Regions from separate parts of the Homo sapiens genome. Here all the other regions are linked to region 1. Evidence: fine-mapped expression QTL. A gene starts in region 1. Each other region holds a variant in brackets. All regions are shown on one strand. Distances are from middle to middle.

What was found. PIP is the estimated chance that this variant, and not a neighbour inherited with it, causes the effect.
Region 2: its variant is the best candidate, but not a certain one, in a credible set for the expression of OLFM2 in unexposed skin (GTEx, PIP 0.51).
Region 3: its variant is the best candidate, but not a certain one, in a credible set for the expression of OLFM2 in whole blood (TOPMed, PIP 0.71).

What each region holds. Positions count from the first base shown.
Region 1 is chr19:9,932,361-9,940,337 of GRCh38, reverse strand. OLFM2 (olfactomedin 2) reads left to right here and starts at 3,823. Exons shown (of 6, transcript NM_058164.4): 1 at 3,823-4,034. The coding sequence starts at 3,972. RefSeq lists enhancers at 2,804-3,306, 3,973-4,567.
Region 2 is chr19:9,889,117-9,897,093 of GRCh38, reverse strand. The region is part of intron 1 of OLFM2 (olfactomedin 2); the gene reads left to right. LOC124904636 (a long non-coding RNA gene) reads right to left here and starts at 3,604. Exons shown (of 2, transcript XR_007067135.1): 1 at 3,486-3,604. The variant C/A (reference allele first, on the strand shown) is at 4,759.
Region 3 is chr19:9,858,566-9,866,542 of GRCh38, reverse strand. OLFM2 (olfactomedin 2) reads left to right here. Exons shown (of 6, transcript NM_058164.4): 2 at 5,749-5,898. Among named protein-coding and RNA genes, the nearest start is that of PIN1, 27 kb to the right of the region's middle. The variant C/T (reference allele first, on the strand shown) is at 3,430.

The DNA.
Region 1 (7,977 bases):
TAGAAGTGTTAGCCATGGCACTCAGCCGATAGGTAGGTTTTGTTTTTGTTTTTTTCTTTTTTGAGACAGAGTTTCACTATTGTTGCCCAGGCTGGAGTGCAATGGCATGATCTCAGCTCACTGCAATCTCTACCTCCTGGGTTCAAGCGATTCTTCTGCCTCAGCCTCCTCAGTAGCTGGCATTACAGACACCTGCTACCATGCCTGGCTAATTTTTTGTATTTTTAGTAGAGACAGCATTTTGCCTTGTTGGGCAGGCTGGTCTCAAACACCTGACCTCAGGTGATCCACCCACTTCAGCCTCCCAAAGTGCTGGGATTACAGGTATGAGCCACCGCACCTGGCCCTATTAGGTTGGTTTTAAGCGCAAACTGGAGCAGGTGAATCAACTCTAGTTGCTAGCTATCATCTTTGCAAGGACTGAAACAACAAAGGGAGGTGGTAGTTACCTGAATCCAGGAGCTGCAGTTACCTGGCCAGTCACCTGCCCCCACCCCCCACCATGGTGGGGAATACCTAATGGGACTGAGACCACAGAGGAGGCACAGCAGCCATGGCTAGAGACACTCAAAGTGGAGGGGGGGAAATTCTCTGGCTTCTCCTTTCTTGGCACCCTCCAATCTGCCTGTAGACCTCCCATTGGCTGAGCCTAACCAGATGCAAAGAAGCCTGGGAAATGTAGTGTGTAGAGAACCTGAGAAAGATAATTTGCAGGAGCCATTGCCCTGATACAGAGGGGAGCAGGGGGAAAGTGGGGAATAGATCTAAGTGCATATCGACCAAATTCCAACCATATAACACAGGCTGTAGCTTAGTTGTAACTGTGATCGTCTTAGTGACCAGAGCCCAAGGAGGACACTGTTCATGGTCCTGAAATGCAGCATTCATGAGTCAAGAGTGCTGACTCTTGACCGTGAGACCCACTCTTGGTCAAGAGCTTGTGGGTCCTACCAACCAATGTCCTCCTTTTATGCAATGCCAACTGCAGGCTTGGCCTGAAGGGCCCACAAAGGACTGTCTCCCATTTGGGAAAAGGAGATAGAAGAATAGGATGGGTGCGGTGGCTCATGCCTGTAATCCCAGCACTTTGGGAGGCTGAGGCAGGTGGATCACCTGAGGTCAAGAGTTCATGACCAGCCTGGCCAATATGGTGAAACCCCATCTCTACTAAAAATATGAAAAATTAGACAGGCCTGGTGGCAGGCACCTGCAATCCCAGCTACTTGGAAGGCCGAGGCGGGAGAATTCCTTGAACCCGGAAGGCAGAGGTTGTAAGCCGAGATCAAGCCACTGCACTCCAGCCTGGGTGTGACAGTGTGAGACTCCATCTCAAAAAAAAAAAAAAAAAAAAGAGATAGAAGAATAAACAGGATGTCTTCGCAGGCTCAGACTCTATTTTGTGTCCACATCCCATGATGAGTGTCCTCAACCCAGTGCATGGTTGGTTATTGCAAGGCGTGCTGGGGAGTGAGTGCTAGCTAGGTGCTCTCTTTGCTTAGAGTCACAGATGTCTCCCAATAACTGCAAAAAACAGGTCTTCTAAGAGGGGGAAAGCTTTTTCCCTAAGGTCACATGGCCAAGAAGTGGCAGCACCAGGGTTGAACCCAGATCTGTGGGTCACCAAGCTCTTTCTCATTGACCTGACAAAACCATCATCGACATGTTTTATCCCCAGTAGGGTTGAGACAGGAATGATCCAGGGTGGTCACAGGCAGCCGTTTCACATGACTAGAGGCTATGGGCTGATAAGATCCTGAAAACCAGGGTGTGGACCAAGCTGGCTAAGACCTACTGGACCCAACATGGCGTTACATTCTACCTAGGTTTCACCTAGGATCTCATTATGTACTCATTAAAATACTAAAATTACCCACCCACCAGCGCCCTTGACAATTCCAGGGACACCCAAATTTGGTGTAAAAGTGGGTGGCACCACAGTCCACCTTTTTCCAGTTTTCATGAATATTCCATCCCTTGGTTAAAGAGATACACAGTGGCCTGTTGTGGTGGCTCACGCCTGTAATCTCAGCACTTTGGGAGGCCAAGGCGGGTGGATCACGAGGTCAGGAGTTTGAGACCAGGCTGGCCAATATGGTGAAACCCTGTCTCTACTAAAAACACAAAAAATTAGCCGGCTGTGATGGCGCACACCTGTAATCCCAGCTACTCAGGAGGCTGAGGCAGGAGAATTGCTTGAACCTGGGAGGCAGAGGTTGCAGTGAGCCGAGATCACACCACTGCACTCCAGCCTGGGTGACAGAGCGAGACTTTGTCTCAAAAAAAAAAAAAAAAAAAAAAAAAAAGAGACACATAAAGGTAGCAGTCCCAAACCACCTTGCCCATCTCTCTCTCTTAAGTACGCCCACTCCCTTTTCTCAAGTGTGGACTTTTCCCTTAACAAAAAAATCTCCGAACTTTTCATGATTTTCTGATTCCTCCTTGAATTCATTCTTGCGATGGTGTTAAGAGCCTGGACACCAGCTGGGGTCGAGGCCCCACCAGCGTCTGGGGAGACCCCTCCTAGCCCAACAGTATCAGGGTCACAAAAATGCCAGGCTTCCTGGCCTCGCATATTTTATGCCCGATTTCTTTCCAATCTGACTTATTTGCCCGCCCCCCTCCTCCACCTCTGCCTACATATATCCGAATCCCTAGAGGGGCTGTGGGGAGGAAAGACGACTAGGGACACTTTTTTTTTTTTTTTTTTTTTGAGACAAGGTTTGCTCCTGTTGCCCAGGCTGGAGTGCAATGGCACGATCTCTGCTCACTGCAACCTCTGCCTCCCGGGTTCAAGCGATTCTCCTGTCTCAGCCTCCCGAGTAGCTGGGATTCCAGGCATGCACCACCACGCCCGGCTAATTTTTGTATGTTTTAGTAGAGGTGGGGTTTTGCCATGTTGGCCAGGCTGGTCTTGAACTCCTGACCTCAGATGATCCACCCTCCTCAGCCTCCCAAATTGCTGGAATTACAGGCGTGAGCCACCGCGCCCGGCCTAGGGAGACTTTTGGAGGAGTGAGAGGCAGAGAAAGGCTGGAAAGCCTCCCGAAAGTGAGGCTAGACAAGGACGCCCTTCATATGCAAATGGCTTCGCGTGGAGGCGGTGTTAATATTTTGATTCTCTCGGGGGATGTGGTCTTTCATCTTGGGCTATTGAAACAGGGAGCGAAGAGAAACTCTTCCAGGTGTGGCGGAGGCGGGGAGGCTTCCAGCGGGAGGACTGGTGGGGAAATGGGGCGCCCGGGGAGAGTGAAAACGAGACGCCCCTTTTTGAGGCCAAGCCCACCCACGTGGCCATTTCCATTGGCCTCTTGCCTGATTCTCGGTCTCCTGTCCCCCCAACCTCAATTTTTTCCTCTTATTCCCCGTCTCCATCTATGCCTCACCCCTCTTGTCCTGGCATTGACCCCTCCTCCAACTTCCAATTTCAGATTCTGCCTCAGTTTCCCTGTTGACTCTTGAGTTTTTAGGGAGGGGGCGTTCATCATTTCCCCTCTCTGCTACCAGGCCTTCCTCCTATTCCTCTCCCCCAACCATTCGTCCCCGTCCCACCTGCAACGTGGGAAATGCCCCCGGAGGGTGAAATTTACAAACACGTGACGGGCACCCCTCCCCCACCTCCGCGACCCGCTCCCGGAATGGCCTGGGGGTTGGGGGGCGCTGCCAAGTCCTGTCCTCAGGTCCCCTCGCCGGCGCTGGCTCCCCCACTTCCCCGCCCCCACCCCCCCACCCGACCCTGCTCGAGCTGCTCCCGAAGAGGAGCTGGGGGCGGGGCGGGGGGCGGAGCCCGCAACAAAGACTCGGAGCGAGCGAGGGGGCGGGGGTGGGGCGGAATCCCGGCCGCCGGCGAGGCGGGGGAGGCGGCGGCGCAGGGTCGCCCCGGCCGGGCGGGCGGGGTCGCGCCTGGTGGCGGTCCCCGCGCCGAGGCGCCGCTAGGGCGGGCGGGGGTCGGGACGCCGGGCTAGGGGCGCGTCATGTGGCCGCTCACGGTCCCGCCGCCGCTGCTGCTGCTGCTGTGCTCAGGCCTGGCCGGACAGGTAGGGGCCCGGCGGGCAGGTGCGGGCGCGGGTGGCTCCGGGAGAGGAGGGGGGCGCGGAGGGTTCCCGGAGAAACGGGGTTGGGAGGCTCCACAAGCCCCCCCAGCTGCAGGGCGGCGAGGGGCGGGGGTCGCAGCGGGGGAGGGGCCGGGACGTGCACTCTCTGGCTTGGGAGAGGACGAGGGGGGCTTCAAATCCAGCCTCAAGCTGGGCTGGTTTGGGGGGTGGCGTCTTTGGGGTTCTCAACCCCTCCATGGCCCCGAGCCCCCACCCCGCCATCTCGCTGGAGCTGAATGGGGTTGGGAGGGAAACTTCAGGGGGCATTGGAGGGGGGCGGTTGCTTACCCTTGACTTCCTCTTCGGGGCCGAGATGCCCAGTTTCTGAAGCCCTCCACTCCTCGCCTGCAGCCCCCAGTGTGGGGCAGGGGACGGGACTCACGTGAGAGTGACTGACGGGGACGCGTGTGAAATGCTGTGGGGGTGCAGGGTAAACGTGTGTGTCTTTGTGTCGTGGTTGGGTGTGACCGGGGGGAGTTTGTGTGTGTGGCGGTTGGGGGGCTTGTCCAACTAGTGCCCGAGTTGGGGTGTGATCAGTACGTGAGACAGAGTCTGTGTGTGACCGTGTCCTCATTACTGGCTCCAGATGACTGGGTGTTGTACAATACGTGTGTGGCCAGGTGTGTGGCCGTGTGAGAGCCTTGGAGTGAGCGTGTGCTATTCTGTACCTTTGGGTAAATCACTCTAAAAGGGTGTGTGTGTGTGCAAGCGCTGTGTGTGCAAACGTGTCCATCCATGCACGTGTGTGTGTGTATCTTGGTGCCTTGCTCACAACCGCACACGCCATTCATACCCTTACAGAAGCGGGTCTCCCTCCCCATGGCACCTTTCTCTTGGGCAGGCTCAGGGAGGCTTGCAAAATGTGGGGCGTCCACGCTCTCTTTTGCTATTGGAAAGCCCCTCTCCTCCTCCATCTTGGGAGTGAGAGCACCCCCAAGTTCTCAGATCTGTAGGAGTTCACAGGGAAGCTGGGATCAAAAATAATAAAATAGTCATTATGATAACAGTGATCATTCATTACGTGCTAATTTGAGAGGTGCTGTTTCAATCACACAGCACAGACTAAGGCATTTAACCCCCTCTGCCTCCTCCCTACTAGAGCATGGTATTGTTACCTCATTTTATGGATGGGGAAACTGAGGCGCAGAAAAGTTAAATCACTTGCTCAAGCTCGAGAGTGACAGAGGTGGGACTGAACCGAGGCAGTCCGGCTCCTGAGCCCACACGATTACCCTCTTGTTAAATAATCCGCTCCATGGGTGTGGACAGCGTCCGTGAAGACATTGCTAGGTGGGCTTTTAGGTAGATAGGCAGGGGAGAAACAATTTGGGCACCTTCCCCTTATCAAGAAAAGAATCAGACCCTTGTGCTCACCCCGAGGGGGGTGTTGGGAGGAATGGAGGTTAGACTCCAGATAGAAGGATTTCCAGGCCACGAGGAGAGATTGTGGGGTCCCCTCCCTCGCTCCTCCATTTCCCCACGCATCTCAGCACCCACGCGCTGGGTGGGATAGGGAGTGTGCCCAGCCCCAGGCATGAGGACACACACAATAGGTACTCAATGGATGTGTGAGCCTGAGAGAAGCCAAGAGACACACCTGGGAGACGAGAGACCAAAAGAGGCACACACTTGAGAAACCAGTGGAAAAAAAATGAGCCAGGAATCAAGTTGAATTATCCTTGACCTAGCAGAGGAGACAGAGAACCACCCCCTGTGGCTTCTCCTCCACTCCCTGCTAGGGGGGCACTAGATTTTCTGGCTTCTCACCAAGATTGGCTAGGATGCCAGAGTTTGCTGCCAGAATTGCAATTGGAGGGTGACTCCTACAGCCCCCAGGGCTGGGAGGGAGTTGCTTTGGGGGCGGGACTAACGAGGTCAGTGGAGGCGGGGCTAAAGGACAACGGGGGCGTGGCCAAATGAGGTAATCCGTTAGGGCGGGGCTGGTGGAATCCTGCCGCGGGCTGCAGTGCCTCCAGGCGGCCACCGCGGGAACTACATGGTTGTGAAACAGTCTCGGCGCCCCATACACCCCCTTGGCGTTGGCCCACCAAGCCTGGCACCCCAGGGAAGGGAGGGGTCTGCAGAGAGGATGCTCTACCCACTCTTCGCTCCCTCCATCACTTTCCAAAGACTTCTTCCCTGTCCCTGATGGGCCCAGGGGTCCTTCCTAGAAATCATTGGTTAATCCATTCAATGAACAGATATGATTATGCACTGGGGATACAGCCACCAACTGAGTCATCAAATCCCTGCTCTCCTGGAGTTGACCTAGCAGAGGAGACAGAAAAGAGCCGAATAACCATGTAATACGGTGTCGGCAACTAAATATACATATAATACAATGCAAGTAGCATGAAGAATAACAGATAAAGTATAGAAGATTAGACTGGAGCCGGGTGCTGTGGCTCACGCCTGTAATCCCAGCATTTTGGGAAGTTGAGGCAAGTGGATCGCCTGAGGTCAGGAGTTCGAGACCAGCCTGGCCAACATAGTGAAACCCTGTCTCTACTAAAAATACAAAAAATTAGCTGGGTGTGGTGGCAGGCGCCTGTAATCCCAGCTACTAGGGAGGCTGAGGCAGGAGAATTGCTTGAACCTGGGAGGCAGAGGTTGCGGTGAGCTGCGATCGCCATTGCACTCCAGCCTGGACAACAAGAGTGAAACTCTGTCTCAAAAAAAAAAAAAAAAAAAAAAGATTAGAGTGATAGCAGTCGGGCATGGAGGCTCACGCCTGTAATCCCAGCACTTTGGGAGGCCAGGGTGAGTGGATCACTTGAGGTCAGGAGTTTGAGACCAGCCCGGCCAACATGGTGAAACCCCGTCTCTACTAAAAATGCAAAAAATTAGCCAGGTGTGGTGTTGCACACCTGTAGTCCCAGCTATTCAGGAGGCTGAGGCAGGCGAATTGCTTGAACCTGGGAGGCAGAGGTTCCAGTGAGCCAAGGTCATGCCACTGCACTCCAGCCTAGGCAACAGAACAAGACTGTCTCAAAGCAAAAAAACAGAAAAAGATTACAAGGTGGGGGCTATTTGAGCCAGTGTGGTCAGGGAAGGTGTCTCTAAGGAAGTAGTGTTTCAGGTGACATCTGAAGGAGGTGAGAGAGGGAGCCTTGTGGGTGTCTGGGGGAAGAGCATTGAAGGTGGGAGGAACAGAAGGTGCAAAGGCCCTGGGGTAAGAACAAGCTTGGTGAGTTTCAGAAGCAGTGTGGACGCTGGTGTGGCTGGAGAGGTCGCGGGGAGATGAGGCCGGGGAAGCCAGACCACTTAGGAACTTGTAAGCTGTGGGCAGAAGTTTGGATTTGACCCAGAGAGCAGGAGAACAGGAAAGCAGGGCCTGTCAGAGGCATTGTCCATTCATCCAGGATCTATCCAAGATGTTCTGGGTTCTGGCCTGGGAGTGACTACCAGAGAGCTTGACAGTTCTGAGCCCCACTATTTTCCTTGTGGAAAAGATGCCTTCCTGATCCCTGCGAAGGCCTCCCTAAGATCTAGCTACATCGTTGGCACTATCTGGGTTTGGGACCAACTCTTTCCTGGGGCTTTCAGAGGATGGGGAGAAGGAATAATTCAGTTTAGATCACGTGCCTCAGGGACTTCACACTTGCTGTTCCCTCTGCCTGTGACACTGTTCCCCCTGGTAGCTATTTATCTCTGATTTCTGCTTAAATGTCACCTCCTCCAAGAGGCTCACCCTGAACAGCTAAGTGAAATAGCCCCCTGCTGCCACTCTCTGAGTGCTTACTCCGTGTTCTTTTTCTTTCTCTCTCTTTCTTTCTTTTTTTTTTTTTTTTTGAGACTGAGTCTCACTCTGTTGCCTGGGCTGGAGTGCAGTGGCGCAATCTCGGCTCACTGCAAGCTTTGCCTCACCGGTTCAAGTGATTCTCGT
Region 2 (7,977 bases), 43 kb after region 1:
GCCTCCCAAAGTGCTGGGATTACAGGTGTGAGCCACCACATCTGGCCCACATCCTCTAATTTTTTGTAGAGACAGGGTCTCGCTATGTTGCCCGGGCTGGTCTTGAACTCCTGGGCTCAAGCGATCCACCCGTCTCAGCCTTTCAAACTGCTAGGATTATAGGTGTGAGCCACTGCACCCTCAACAAGTGTTTTTGAGGACTTCTTATATGCTTTTAAGGGAGAAATTATATTCAACCAAACAGACATGGATGTGTGGCGCTTTCTGCAAAACAGGGAGGTAGGTGATGATTATGTAGTTGCAAATAAATATAATTGGCAGCTGTGATTAACAGCTTTGAGGGAAAGATTCTTGGTGCTCTAGTAGCTTCTAATAAGGAGATTTGATGTAATTTGGAAGTCAGAGGAAGCAAGAGCTGAGATCTGATGCAGAGAGGAAAGGATGCTCTGCGCAGAGGGAATTGCTTATGCAAAGGCCCTGGGGTAAGAGGAAGGATGGAAAATATGATGGACTAAAGAAGGCCTTGCAAGGCCAGGTGAGGTGGTGGCTCACACCTATAATCCCAGCACTTTCGGAGGCCGGGGTGGGAGGATGGCTTGAGCCAGGAGTTCCAGGCTGCAGTAAGCTACACTTGTGCCACTGCACTCCAGCCTGGGTAACAGAGCAAGACTCTGTCTCTAAAAAAAATTAAAATAGGCTGGGCGCTGTGGCTCACGCCTGTAATCCCAGCACTTTGGGAGGCTGAGGCGGGCGGATCACAAGGTGAGGAGATTGAGACCATCCTGGCTAACACAGTGAAACCCTGTCTCTACTAAAAATACAAAAATTAGTCGGGCGTGGTGGCGGGCGCCTGTAGTCCCAGCTACTCGGGAGGCTGAGGCAGGAGAATGGCATGAACCCGGGACGCGGAGCTTGCAGTGAGCCAAGATCGCGCCACTGCACTCCATCCAGCCTGGGCAACAGAGCAAGACTCCGTCTCAAAAAAAAAAAAAAAAAAAAAAATTAAAATAAAGTAAAGAAGGCCTGGGAACGAGGAGACCAGATGAAAGCAGAGAAGTAAGTAAAGTGCAGAGCCACAGGCTCTTGTGGCGACATTAAGGAGTTTTATCTCTATCCTAAGAATAAAAGGAATCCACCAATATGGTTTTGGCCGGGAGGATAATATGATCACACGTGCGTTGTAAAGTTTCCCAGCTTTCAGAGGCCAAGGCGGGTGAATCACTTGAGGTCAGGAGTTTGAGACCAGCCTGGCCAACATGGTGAAACCCTGTCTCTACTAAAAATACAAAAATTAGCCAGGTGTGGTGGCGTGGGCCTGTAATCCCAGCTACTCAGTAGGCTGGGGCAGGAGAATCACTTGAACCCTGGAGGTGGAGGTTGCAGTGAGCTGAGATGGCACCACTGCACTCCAGCCTGGACGACAGAGCGAGACTCGGTCTAAAAATATAAATAAATAATAAAAATAAATAAAGTTTCCCAGAAGCTCCCATGTGTAGAGTTACTAGCAAGAAAAAAGGTAGATTGAGGTAGACCGAATAGACTTTATTTTTATTTAAATGTTTTGTCATATTTTACATTTATTTATTTATTTATTTATTTGAGACAGGGTCTCACTCTGTCACCCAGGCTGGAGTGTAGTGGTGTGATCACGGCTCACTGAAGCCTTGACTTCTCAGGCTCAAGTGATCCCCCACCTCAGCTTCCCGAGTAGCTGGGACTACAGGCGTGTGCCACCACACCCCGCTAATTAAAAAAAAATTTTTTTTTTGGTACAGTTAGGGTCCTAGTATGTTGCCCAGGCTGGTCTCAAACTCCTAGGATCAAGCAGTCCTCCCACCTCGGCCTCCCAAAGTGCTGGGATAACAGGCATAAGCCACTGCACACAGCCTAGACTTGCTGAATTGTGAAAGTGGCTTGGACCATTGCATGGTGATAGAGATGAAGAATGATGCATGAATTCTAAAGCTATCTAGGAGTTAACATCAGTAGGATTTGGTGAGGGAGTAAAATGAGGGTGAGGATAATGCCCGGGTGTCTGACCCACTGGCCCGGGGGTGGGGAGGATGGAGATGGTGACATAAGGAATGTTGGATAAGAACTAGGTTAGGGAGGGAAGGCTGTGCACTTCAGTTTGAGCATGTTGGGCTTGAGATGCCTTAGAGATATCTGGGGCAGGGGGAGCGGTCAAGGAGTCAGATGATGAATATATGCATTGGAGCTCTGAGGACATATATACAGGCAGGTGTTGATGGACGCTTTGGTAAGGGTCAGACTCCTTAGAGAAAGATAAAGAGAAAATGCAAGGCTAAGTCTAGAGCTGTGGTTCTCAACCGAGGAGTGGGAAGTTATTTTATTTATGTATTTTTTTAATTTTTTATTCTTTTGAGACGGAGTTTTGCTCTTGTTGCCCAGGCTGGAGTGCAATGGTGCAATCTCGGCTCACTGCAACCTCTGCCTCCTGGGTTCAAGCCATTCTCGTGGCTCAGCCTCCCGAGTAGCTGGGATTACAAGCAGGCACCACCACACCTGGCTAATTTTGTATTTTTAGTAGAGACGGGGTTTCTCCGTGTTGGTCAGGGTGGTCTCGAACTCCTGACTTCAGGTGATCTGCCCGCCTCAGCCTCCCAAAGTGCTGGGATTACAGGCGTGAGCCACTGCACCTGGCTTTATTTTATTTATTTATTATTATTATTATTATTATTATTATTATTATTATTGAGAGAGAGTCTCACTCTGTTGCCCAGGCTGGAGTGCAGTGACACCATCCCGGTTTCACTGCAGCCGTGACTTACCTGGGCTCAGGTGACAGCAGGTTTTGACCCTTCCTGTTTAGCACATGTTACCATGATCTCTGCTCACTGCAACCTCCCCTTCCCGGGTTCAAGTGGTTCTCCTGCCTCAGCCTCCTGAGTAGCTGGGATTACAGGCGTGCGCCACCACGGCCGGCTAATTTTTGTATTTTTAGTAGATATGGGGTTTCACCATGTTGGCCAGGCTGGTCTCGAACTCCTGGCCTCAAGTGATCCATCCGCCTTGGCCTCCCAAAGTTGCTGGGATTACAGGAGTGAGCCACCATGCCCGACCAAGAAAACCCTCTTGAATGCTCTCTCCTGAACTCCTGACCTGAGGTTTGGTGTCTGAGGCTGGGGAGAGCTCAGATAGAGGGATGTTCAACTCTAGTATCTATGAGGTGAGACTCAGGATGGTTCTTGTAACGTCTTGAAACCTCTTGAAGATTTATGCTGTGTGTAATAGCTCATCAAGAAACCCTGGTAATAATCCTTGAAATAGACCTGCGAACTCTGCTTTAATGAATTTTACATGATGGCGTTGGAGAAATGAAATCCCCTTACCCTCATTAATCCTGAGACACAGCAATCATTTGCAGTAGACGTTCACCCAAGAGGCCCCAAACACTTTAAGAGAAGTGCTCCACACGTGAGAAGGTGCCCAGGAAGGGGAAATTTCTGCCATGAAATCCTCACCTGATTGTGAACGTTCTACTAGGGCAGGGTGTACCCAGGTACTGAGATAGACCAGGCTCAGCTCAGGTTCCAAGACGGGGGGTTCACTCAAGTCCTGGAACAGAACACAGATACATCCCCAAGGTGTTAAGATGCTCCATGATTGGCCGGGTGCGGTGGCTCACGCCTGTAATCCCAGCACTTTGGGAGGTGGAGGCGGGTGGATCACCTGAGGTTGGGAGTTCGAGACCACCCTGGCTAACATGGTGAAACCCAGTCTCTACTAAAAATACAAAAATTAGCTGGGCATGGTGGTAGGCGCCTGTAATCCCAGCTACTTGGGAGGCTGAGGCGGGAGAATCACTTGAACCTGGGAGGTGGAGGCTGCAGTGAGCTGAAATTGTGCCATTGCACTCCAGCCTGGGCAACAGAGCGAGACTCTGTCTCAAAAAAAAAAAGAAAAAGAAAAAAAATAAAAGATGCCTTGTGGTTTGACTCTATGACAGACTAGAGTCAAGCCCAAGCCTTGGACAGACAAAGGCTTAACTGGGAGAGACCAAAGAGAAACCTGGTTCTAAGAGATGAAGAGGGCCAGGACCAAATCCGAGTCCTGGGTAGATCAGGGCTACGCTGTGGACTTGAGATAGACAAGGCCAAACCCAAGTACTGAGATAGACCAGAGTTTAACTTGAATCCTGAGATGGACCAGGGCTGAACCCACATCCTGAGACAGATCAGACCAGAACCTTGTGAGGAGAGAACCAGAAAATGGGCTTATCTTAGAGAAGTTGTGGGAGAACAGGTTTGCTCTCCCTACTTGTTGAGCCGCGTCACCCAAACTGTCGAGTGCCTCTGGGATGAATGGCCATTGCAGATGACTTGGAATGTCCCAGGACTCATGAGGGGATGAGAATTTTATTTTTATTTGATTTGATTTGACACAGAGTCTTGCTCTGTCACCCAGGCTGGAGTGCAGTGGCGTCATCTGCCTCCTGGGCTCAAGTGATTCTCCCACCTCAGCCTCCTGAGTAGCTGGAACTACAGGCACCCGCCACCAAGCCTAGCTAATTTTCGTATTTTTAGTAGAGACAGGGTTTTGCCATGTTGGCCAGGCTGGTCTCGAACTCCTGGCCTCAAGTGATCCACCCACCTTGGCCTCCCAAAGTGCTGGGATTACAGGCGTGAGGCACCGCACACAGCCAGAATTTTATTTCCCAATGCCAGGTCATCCTAGGATCCAAGGTTGAGCCAGGTCAGGCCCATGAGCCAACAGCACTAGGGATGCCCAGGGTGG[C/A]TGTCCCTCCCTGTGGTGTTGGCTGTATGTACTCTGATACAGACTTGAGTGATGCCCCCACTCCATATAGGCTGTCACACCCAGGGTATCACATATCCACACAGCAGCAGATACACACATGCACACACACAGTCACACCAACCCATGCACGTGCCTCAGATACACAGCAACACGTGGCACAGACATGCACATTGACACCCCAAACCCTGGCACACACACGTACAGACCACATCACAGTCTTACAAACACAGCCAACTGGCACACTCAGACATAGCCCTCCTCACTATGCCAGTTTCACATCTGCAATAGTGCCCGACTCCAGGGTCATGGTGTTCTCGGAGAACAGTGTCCCTGGAGTTTTCTCACTTATCTATCATCTGACACCATCCTGTTTTATACATTCATATGCATAGTTTTATACACTTGCTGATGCTCACACACATAAACCTATATATAGCTACCTGCTCATGTGTGTTCTTGATCATGTAGACACAGACGTGCCACACCTCAGTCTCACACACTCACTGGCTCTGTGCCAGTCAGCATAGGCTAGGTTTTGCTGTATAACAAAACAGCCCCCAAGTCTCAGAGGGTTAGTACAACCAAATGAGCTTTTGCTCATGATACATGAGGGTTGGCAGGGTCTCTGCCTAGTCTGGCCACTCAGGGACCCCAGTGATGGAGGCTTCATACCAACATGCACTTTTTTTTTTTTTTTTGAGATGGAGTCTTGCTCTGTTGCCAGGCTGGAGTGCAGTGGTGCCATCTCAGCTCACCTCTGCCTCCCGGTTCAAGCAATTCTCCTGCCTCAGCCTCCCAAGTAGCTGGGACTACAGGCACGTGCCAGCACACCTGGCTAATTTTTATATTTTTAGTAGAGACAGGATTTCACCATGTTGGCCAGGCTGGTCTCGAACTCCTGACCTCAAGTGATTCACCTACCTCGGCCTCCCAAAGTGCTGGGATTACAGATGTGAGCCACTGTGCCTGGCCCCAGCATGCACTTTTTTTTTTTTTTTTTCCGAGATGGAGTCTCGCTCTGTTGCCCAGGCTGTAGTGCAGTGGCACGATCTCGGCTCACTGCAACCTCTGCCTCCAGGTTCAAGTGATTCTCCTGCCTCAGCCTCCTAAGTAGCTGGGATTACAGGCACCCACCACCAGGCCTGGCTAATTTTTGTATTTTTAGTAGAGACTGGGTTTCACCATGTTGACCAGGCTGGTCTTGAACTCCTGACCTCAGGTGATCTGCGTGCCTCAGCCTACCAAAGTGCTGGGATTACAAGTGTGAGCCACTGCACCCAGCCCAACATGCCCTTCTGCGGTTGCTGAGGGAAGACTGTGGCACTGCACACTGGCTTGCCTCTTTTTTTCTTCGTTGTTTCAGAGACAGGGTTTTGCTCTGTGCCCAGGCTGGAGTGCAGTGGTGTGATCACAGCTCACTGCAGCCTCCAACTCCTGGGCTTAAACAATCCTCCTGCCTCAGCCTCCTGAGTAGCTGGGAATATAAGTGTGCACCTCCATGCCCGATAAATTTTTAAAATATTTTGTAGAATAGGGGTCTTGCTATGTTGCCCAGGCTGTTCTCAAACTCCTGGCCTCAAGCAGTTCTCCTGCCTTGGCCTCCCAAAGTGCTGGGATTACAGGTGTGAGCCACCACACCTGGTCCACACCGGCTCTTAAAGTATTCACCTGGAAGTCACTGCCGTTTAAAAGGCATTGGCTAAAGGAAGTCACGTGGCCACACTGGGGAAGTCCTACAGCCCCATCATGTGCCTAAGAGAAAAGAACTAGAAAATGTGTCAACAGTTCTGTTGACTACTGCAGTCTCTTACATGTTCCAACAGTTACTCACTCCTGTAGACACGTCCACATGCACGCACTTTATTCCTTCTCACGGGCACCCATTCTCATGACCTGTTTCCTTCCTTGAGGCAGGGCAGGAGGCCACAGTGCCCGCCCCCTCCCCCCAGAGTCTTCCCTTAGCTTCAGATACATCAGGGGGATCTCCCTGTCTCTGTTGAGCTGGGGGTCCCAGGGGTAATGAGTTTCTGAGCTGCAGCTAGAGCTGGAGCTGAGAAAACAGTGCAGACACCTTCTCTGCCCCCGGAGTGGGTGGTATTTTTCCACAGACACTGGGGAAGAAGAATAATAGGTGCTGGTAGATGTCTCCACCAGCCCAGCGCCTTCCCCGTCTTGCCAGCTGCAGCTTGGAAGAGGGGAGCCCAGAGGGAAGAGAAGGCAAAACCAGAGAGACCCCTGTCCTCCCGACCCGTGTGAGCTCCCAGCGCCACTGGGGACCCTTCGTTGTCCCCTCTCCTCCCGGCTCCTCCTTCTGACTACTCAAATATTCCAAGGCAGGAAACTCATGAATATTTATAGGGGCCTGGCAGTGAGGCAGATATAAAAAAAAAAAAATTGGAATTTATGAACCAGGATTCGTCTATAAATAACAGGCCTGTGGCTGGTGGGGTTCTTCCCTCACCCACAACATTGCTTCAACTGCAGCTCCAGCCCCATCCAAAGCTCACAGAGCCTCCCCTTCACACACATACACACAGCTTCACTGTGGATGCACAATTTCCCATCCGCCAGTGCATTGGCGCACACACACGCATTCATACCCAGCCGAACACACAGACACGTGTTCACACCTGCCTGGGTCTGGCCCACTGCCTCCCTTCCACTCACAGACACCCCGATGCAAAGTGAGCCTGAATGCATCCTCCTCTGTCCACATTCGGGCTGATGCAGCCACTCACACTGCATCTGCACAAAACACACAGTTGGGCTGGGTGTGGTGGCTTATGTCTGTAATCCCAATACTTTGAGAGGCTGAGGCAGGAGGATTGCTTGAGCCCAGGAGTTTGAGACCAGCCTGGGCAACATAGTGAGACCCTATCTCTACAAAAGAAGACAAACATTTACTAGGCATGGTGGCATGCACCTGTAGTCCCAGCTACTTGGGAGGCTGAGGTGGGAGGATTGCTTGAGCCTGGGAGATTGACACTGTGTGTGCTGTGATCGCGCCACTGCACTCCAGCCTGGGCAACAGAGCAAGAGCCTATCTCAAAAACAAAAAACAAAATACAAAAAACACACAGTTGCACACATACACACCATGGAGAGACACATGGCCACAGCTCACTCCCTAACCCATGACCCAAGCACACCCCCTCCCCTCTCCAGGCCTCAGTTTCCTCACCCACATAAGGGGCACAC
Region 3 (7,977 bases), 74 kb after region 1:
AGGCAACAGAGCAAGACCCTGTCTCAAAAAAAAAAAAAAAAAAAAGTGGGTTGGCTTCTTTAGTACATCTGCCACATCCGAGGTGAGACAGGCTGCTAGACCACAGACTTCTATGCTGGAGAACGCCTGTGTTCTTGCACCTGCTGTTGTAAGCATTTCCCCTAGAGTAGGACACTCTCTGTTCCTCTCTAGTCTTCTGACTGCCAAGAACTCTTGACTTTGTTTCCAAGCTAGACCCAGTCTGGGAGAGCTAGCACATGGTACATTCCAGAACATTCCAGCGGTTCCTAGGGACATGCATTAACTGCATATCTGAACTTAAACCCAATGGGCAAAACTCAGGACCTCTGCCTGCTGCGATCTGGCAGCCAAAACCCAGGCATTTAATTACACTGCTGCAGAGAACACTCCGGTGAGATGCGTCCAACGCAGACAATTATTTTAGGAAAACCATGGAGGCCTTCTCTCTGCACCACTTAAATCTTGCTTCTCTTTTACAATTCAATATTTCCTCTGTCGAGAGAAAATGGCTTATTTGCTTCAACGGACACGCTAGGCAATGTAGGAAGATGTTAATTACGTTGAACCGGCGGCTTTGTCTCTGCACAAAAGATATTCCTTGGGGGTTTCTATCCAAATTGCTTGGGGACTAGAGCCAGGGGAGGAGGGGCAGGGATGCTTGGGCTCCTGTTTGATGTTTTTCTTTGTTTTTTTTTTTTTTTTTTAAGAATGAGATTTATCAAGAAGGGAGGGCCGGGCACGGTGGCTCATGCCTGTAATCCCAGCATTTTGGGAGGCCAAGGCGGGTGGATCATTTGAGGTCAGGAGTTCAAGACCAGCCTGGCCAACATGGCGAAACCCTGTCTCTACTAAAAATACAAAAATTAGCCAGGCGTGGTGGTGCATGCCTGTAATCCCAGCTACTTGGGAGGCTGAGGCAGGAGAATTGCTTGAACCTGGGAGGCAGAGGCTGCAGTGAGCCGAGATCCCGCCATTGCACTCCAGCCTGGGCGACAGAGCAAGACTCCCTCTCAAAAAAAAAAAAAAAAAAAAAAAAGAAAAAACAGAGAGGTAACAGTGACTCATGCCTTGTAATCCCAGTGCTTTGGGAGGCTGAGGCAGGAGGATCGCTTGAGCCCAGGAGTTTGAGACCATACTGGACAATATAGCAAGACTCCCATCTCTACAAAAAAATTTAAAAATTAGTAGGTGCGATGGTGAGACTAAAGGCCTTTAGTCTCAGCTACTCGGGAGGCTGAAGTGGGAGGAATCACTATTTAAGCCCAGGAGGTTGAGGCTGCCAAAAGCCCTGATAGTACCACTGCACACCAGCCTGGGTGACCAAGTGAGACTCCATCTCCAAAAAAAAAAAAAGAGGAGAAGAAGAAGAAGGGAGGTGGGAGAGTAGTTCTGGATCCTCCCAGAACCAAAGGGGCAGGCTTTCTTGGGGTATTCCTCTTGTACTGGGCCATCCTTGTTGTCTTAGGTCAGGCTCTTTCAGGGAGGATTTAAGTGCAGGTATCCACCTAAGATACCCCAGGAAGAACCAGTGGGGGAGCAGTGAAGTGAGAGAGGAGGTGAAGGAAACCCGTGCCGGGAGACTTAATGAGTACGCCAGGCGCAGTGGCTCACACCTGTAATACCAGCACTTTGAGAGGCCGAGGCAGGTGGATCGCTTGAGCCCAGGAGTTCAAGACCAGCCTGGGCAGCAAAGCAAGACTATCTCTACAAAAGGAAAAAAAAAAAAAAAAAAAAGCTGGGTGTGTTGGTACCTGCCTGTAGGCCCAGCTACTCAGGAGGCAGATGTGGGAGGGGATGGCTTAAACCCAGGAGTTCGAGGCTGCAGTAAGCTAGGATTGCACCACTGCACTCCAGTGGTGGGTGACAGCAAGACCCAGACCTGAGCGACAGCAAGACCCCATCTTAAAAAAATAAATAAATGTGCCAGGCGCAATGGCTCTCGCCTGCAATCCCAGCACTTCGGGAGGCCAAGGTGGACGGATCACTTGAGGCCAGGAGTTCGAGACCAGCCTGACCAACATAGTGAAACCCTATCTCTACTAAAAATACAAAAATTAGCCAGGCATGGAGGTGGGTGATTGTAATCCTAGCTACTCGGGAGGCTGAGGCATGAAAATCGCTTGAACCCAGGAGGTGGAGGTTGCAGTGAGCCAAGATCGCACCACTGCCCTCCAGCCTGGGAGACACAGCGAGAGTCTGTCTCAAAAATGAAAAATAATAAAATAAACGAATAAATAAAAGAGAAGTAATGAGCAGGTTGCTGCTGTGGACAACTGAGGTGTAAATCTAATGGGTTGCCCTGGAAGATTTCATGAACATACACCTTCGAGTTCTTTCCCACTGGAGAGGCAAGAGGGGTGGTATTAATCACGAATGCCTGTAGGTCATCTCTGAGGATTGCTGGGTGTATTTTCTGCTGGCCCCATGCAAGGGCAGGGTGGGATATGACCACCAGAGAAAGCTCTTGGCTGTGGCCAATCCTGGGCACACCTGCAGTGAATGTTAGCTCCACCCAGCTCCTACCTGAGTACAAGGAAGGCGGAGAAAGTGAGTTACTGTGCTCCGCTGCCAGGGCTGAGGATGTGCAACTTACAAAGAGGGGGTTCCCCCCATTTAGGAAGGGTGTACAAAGGCTCGAAGAATGACTGACTGTAATAGTTTCAGCTGGCGTTTATGAATGGTTTGTTTTCCTTATAGATTAGTGGGGGAGTCAAGCTCATCTGTATAATTTGTACAATTATATCATTTGCTCATATTCCAATAAGCCTTAAAAAAAAAAAGACTCGATTGAGTGGGAGAGAAAAAGGTGGGCTAATAGTTGGAGTCCCCGGGATCGCTCATAATTCACAGCTTGGTTTATCTGTGCTGCAGCTCACGGCACCGATTCTGCTGGGAGATCTAGTAATGGCTGTGCAAATGATCAATGATTGTGGTGCTTTGTTTCTCTGTAAAACACTGGGGTTTTTTTAATCAGAATTTCTTCCATGCCTGTCAGAATGCATCCTGGAATAGGACCAGAATCTTCCATTTACCGCCTCTATGGCCACCACCCATCATCACCTGTCTGGATCTGTGCAGTCACCCCTGCCCTGGCCTCCCTCCCTCGTTCCCTAGAGCAGCCAGAGGTCACTGTGAACACCCAAGTAAGGTCACGTCTCGCCTCTGCACAGAACCCTCCATGGCTCCCACCTTCCTCAGGGCAGAACCCAGAGCCCTCACTGCTTCCCACAAGGCCTTGCCCCATCACCTCCCTTCTCTCATCTGCCTCCACTTACCCCTTACTCAATCTGCTCCAGCCACATGGGCCTCCTCCTTGTTTCACAAACACACCAGGCATGGTCCTGCCTCAGCCTTTCTACTTGCTGTTCTCTCTGCCTGGAACCCCTTCCCCAGACATCCAAATGGCTC[C/T]TCCCTCACTTCCTTCAGGTCTTGAACAAAGACTTCAGGTTTTGAACAAACGACGCCTACGTGTGCAAGCCCAAGCCAGTCACCCCACAACCCTCACGTCCCCCCACATCCTTTTTTTTTTTTTTGAGACAGAGTTTCACTCTTTTGCCCAGGCTGGAGTAAAGTGGTGTGATCTCGGCTCACTGCAACCTCGGCTCGCTGCCCCCACCCCGCCAGGTTCAAGCGATTCTCCTGCCTCAGGCTCCCAAGTAGCTGGGATTATAGGCGCACATCACCATGCCCGGCTAATTTTTGTATTTTTAGTAGAGACGGGGTTTTACCATGTTGGCTAAGCTGGTCTGGAACTCCTGACCTCAGGTGATCCACCTGCCTCCACTTCCCAAAGTGCTAGGATTACAGGTGTGAGCCACCGCGTCTGGCCTGTTTTTTTTAAGAGATGGGGTCTCACTCTGTCACCCAGGCTGGAGTGCAGTGGCACAGCCATAGCTCATTGCAGCCTCAACTTCCTGTACCCAAGCAATCCTCCTGCCTCAGCCTTGTGAGTAGCTGGGACCACAGGTGCATGCCACTACATCCAGCTAATTTTTTTTTTTTTTTAATTTTTAGTATAGATGAGGTCTTGTTATGTTGCCCAGGGTGGCCTTAAACTCCTGACCTTCAGTGATCCGCCCCCTTCAGCCTCTTGAAATTCTGGGATTACAGGCGTGAGCCACCATTCCTGGGTCCCTCCAGACATTGATCAGGATTTGTAATGATAGAAATGTCCCCTGCCTTCTCCTTTTCTTCTGTCTCACTCGTCCCTCAAGTTCATCTCAAGAGCCCATTCTCTTGGATACCTCCTCAGAGACCCTCAGCCTGAGGGAAGACCCCCTGTTACTCCCTGCACTACTTCTTCAAAGCACTCACTGCAGCATGTGGTTCTAGAAGTATCACTGGCATTAAGTGGTTGATGTCCGTCTCTCCTAGTAGCTCCATGGACAACCACCAGATGTTTTCTTCATTCCTTCTCTTCCTTGATCCTATCCCAGACCCTATGCCTGGGACAGAAGAGACTCTCATGGATATCTTCTTTTTTTTTTTTTTTTTTTTTCTTTGAGACGGAGTCTTGCTCTGTCGCCCAGGCTGGAGCGCAGTGGCGCAGTCTCAGCTCACTGCAACCTCCGCCTCCCAAGTTCAAGCCATTCTCCTGCCTCAGCCTCCCATGTAGCTGAGATTACAGGTGCCCGCCACCATACTTGGCTAATTTTTGTATTTTTAGTAGAGATGGGGCTTTGCCATGTTGGCCAGGCTGTTCTCAAAACTCCTGACCTCAGGTGATCCACCTGCCTCAGGGGTGTCTTCTAATCAGTTTGGAAGTTTATGATTTGTGTCTAGAGTTCCCTGGTACTTATTTGCATTTCTAAGCCTCTGATAAGTCCTGCAGTAACAAAACTTGTTTCACCCAGTGACACACATTTATTTGACCACAGAGCATCCTTTTCCCAGCACACCTGGTAAGATTACCAGTGTTGGAAGGAGTATGGCTTGGGAAACAAAGCCATAATTGGTCACTGGATTATCTGAGCATTTTGTCTGCCATCACTTTGCCTGGGTGGCTCCAGGTGAGGTGGGGGCACAGCAGGGTTGCACTTAACATTTGGTGGCCCTGATGGCCGGGCACGGTGGCTCACGCCTGTAATGCCAGCACTTTGGGAGGCTGAGACGGGTGGATCACCTGAGGTGAGATCCTTTTTTTTTTGTGAGACAGGGTCTCACTCTGTTACCCAGGCTGGAGTGGAGGCCAGGTGTTGGAGACAGGCGGAGGTTGCAGTGAGCCCAGATCGCGCCACTGCTCTCCAGCCTGGGTGACAGGGCAAGACTGTGTCTCAAAAACAAACAACAACAAAAAACAAACCAAAAAAAAAAAAAAACATTAAGTGGCCCTGAGATAGCTCCAGAGCCGATATGTCACTGTGGGCTGGGGAAGCAGAGAGGAGGTCCAGGTTTGGGGGTTATTTGAGTGGATCTCTGTTCTAATGGCAGTCACAGAGACAGTGTTGTGTGCGTGCAAATCTGTGTGAGAGAATGAATTCTGGTCTTGGAGAAGATTTGAGTCCTCCAATTCCTTGCCGTGTTCCTTAAGCCCTCCGCACCTCAGTCTTGCCATCCGTGAAATGAGGCTCCTTAAGGAGGGCCTGAGATCACACACAACAGGCACTGGCATATGCCCGGAGCCCAGCAAAGGGCATCTGTGGTTTCCTTGGGCCCCCTTCCTGTCCCAGTGAGGGCGAGGCGAGACCCTCACTGGGATTCCGGTCTCTGACCCCCACCTCTTTGCAGACTCTCTTCCAGAACCCAGAAGAGGGCTGGCAGCTGTACACCTCAGCCCAGGCCCCTGACGGGAAATGCATCTGCACGGCCGTGATCCCAGCGCAGAGTACCTGCTCTCGAGATGGCAGGAGTCGGGAGCTGCGGCAACTGATGGAGAAGGTGAGAACCTTCCAGGTACCCTGGGGGCAGCTGGGAAAATCTCCCAGTTCTCACCCCGCCCTCCAGCCCCATCCAGGTCAGCCAGTGGCCATATCCAGCTATGCAAATTATTCAGAGCTGGCTGATAATCCAGCTCCTCTCCAGGCAGGTCCTTTTTTTTTTTTTTTCCTTTTAACACAGGGTCTCACTCTGTTACCCAGGCTGGAATGCAGTGACATGATCAGCTCACTGCAGCCTCAAACTCCTAGGTTCAAGCAATCCCCACTCCTCAGCCTCTGAGTAGCTGGGACTACAGACATGCACCACCATGCCCTAATTTTTATATTTTTTGTGGAGACGGGGTCTCCCTATGTTGCCCAGGCTGGTCTCAATCTCCTGGGCTCAAGTGATCCTCCTGCCTCAGCCTCCCAAAGTGTTGGGATTACAGGTGTGAGCCACCATGCCCAGATGGATACTTTATCCAATATCTGTTCAATGTATTTTTTTTTTTTTTCTCCTTGAGACAGTCTCACTCTGTCGCCCAGGCTGGAGTGCAGGTGCAGTGGCGCGATCTCAGCTCACCGCAACCTCCACCTCCCAGGTTCAAGCAATTCTCCTGCCTCAGCCTCCCGAGTAGCTGGGATTACAGGCGTGTGCCACCACGCCCAGCTAATTTTTTTATTTTTAGCAGAGATGGGGTTTCACCATATTAGTCATGCTGGTCTTGAACTCCTGACTGCAGGTGATTTGCCTGTCTTGGCCTCCCAAAGTGCGGGGATTACAGGCGTGAGCCACTGCGCCCTGCCTGTTCAATGCTTTTTTGGGAGAGAAGCCAAGCACTTACTGGGATTGGGGTGGGGGGAAGGAAGGAAGACTGGAGGGGCAGCATCTGAGTCTCCTGTGTGTGAGCTCTGGTCCACCAGGCATGTCCCACCCAGCTTTGCAGTTCACCAGACTCACCTACTAAGAAGGAGTTCTGTGCCCCTTGGGGAGGGTCTAACCCTCCACCTCAAGAGGCTCCTATAAAAGTTTCCTTCTACCTCTGATCATGGTCAAGAGAAAATAGTCCCCTGGGCCGGGCGTGGTAGCTCACGCCTGTAATCCCAGCACTTTGGGAGGCTGAGGCATGTGTATCACTTGAGGTCAGGAGTTTGAGATCAGCCTCTACCAAAAATACAAAAATTAGCCGGGCGTGGTGGTGTGTGCCTGTAGTCCCACCTACTCGGGAGGCTGAGGCAGGAGAACTGCTTGAACCCGGGAGGTGGAGGTTGCAGTGAGCTGAGATGGCACCACTGCACTCCAGCCTGGGCAAGACAGAGCAAGACTCCATCTCAAATAAATAAATAAATAAATAAATAAAACTTACAAATTGTTGATTTCTGGAATTTCCCACTTAATATTTTTGGACTGTGGTTGGCCTCAGGTAGCTGAAACGTGAAACTGTGGAGAAGGGAAGAGTATGTAAAAATGTTTTGTGGCGTTCAGGGTGGGTATTAGGCTGCTGAGTTTCTGGGAGTTTCCAAGTGTCATGTGAATAATTGTACAGGAAAGTCTGTATTTCAACAAGCATCCAGTGGTAACTCTGACTGAGTTTACCTTAGCCAGGCAGAGTCCACTTTAGTCAGGTGAAGCTGGTGGGAATCTACCTTAGCCAGGTGAGAGTCTACCTTAGCCAGGTAAAGGTCTACCTTAGCCAGGTGAGGGTCTACCTTAGCCAGGTGAGGGTCTACCTTAGCCAGGTGTTCATCTTAGCCAAGTGAGAGTCTACCTTAACAAGGTGGGAGTCTACCTTAGCCAGGTGTTCACCTTAGCCAGCTGGAGTCTACCTTAGCCAGGTGAGAGTCTACTTAAGCCAGAGATGGAGTTCACCTTAACAAGGTGGCTACCTTAGCCAGATGTTCACCTTAGTCAGATGGGAGTCTACCTTAGCCAGGGGGAGTTCAACTTATCTAGGTGGAGTTCACCGTAGCCAGGTGGAGGTGGGAGCTGGGTGCTCTCAGGTTGGGTCAGGAGAGGCCAGGGCAAGGGAAGTTTATTTTACTCATTCAGCCAAAAAATACTTATTGGGCCTCTACTCCAGGCCAGTGCTGGGCACTGGAG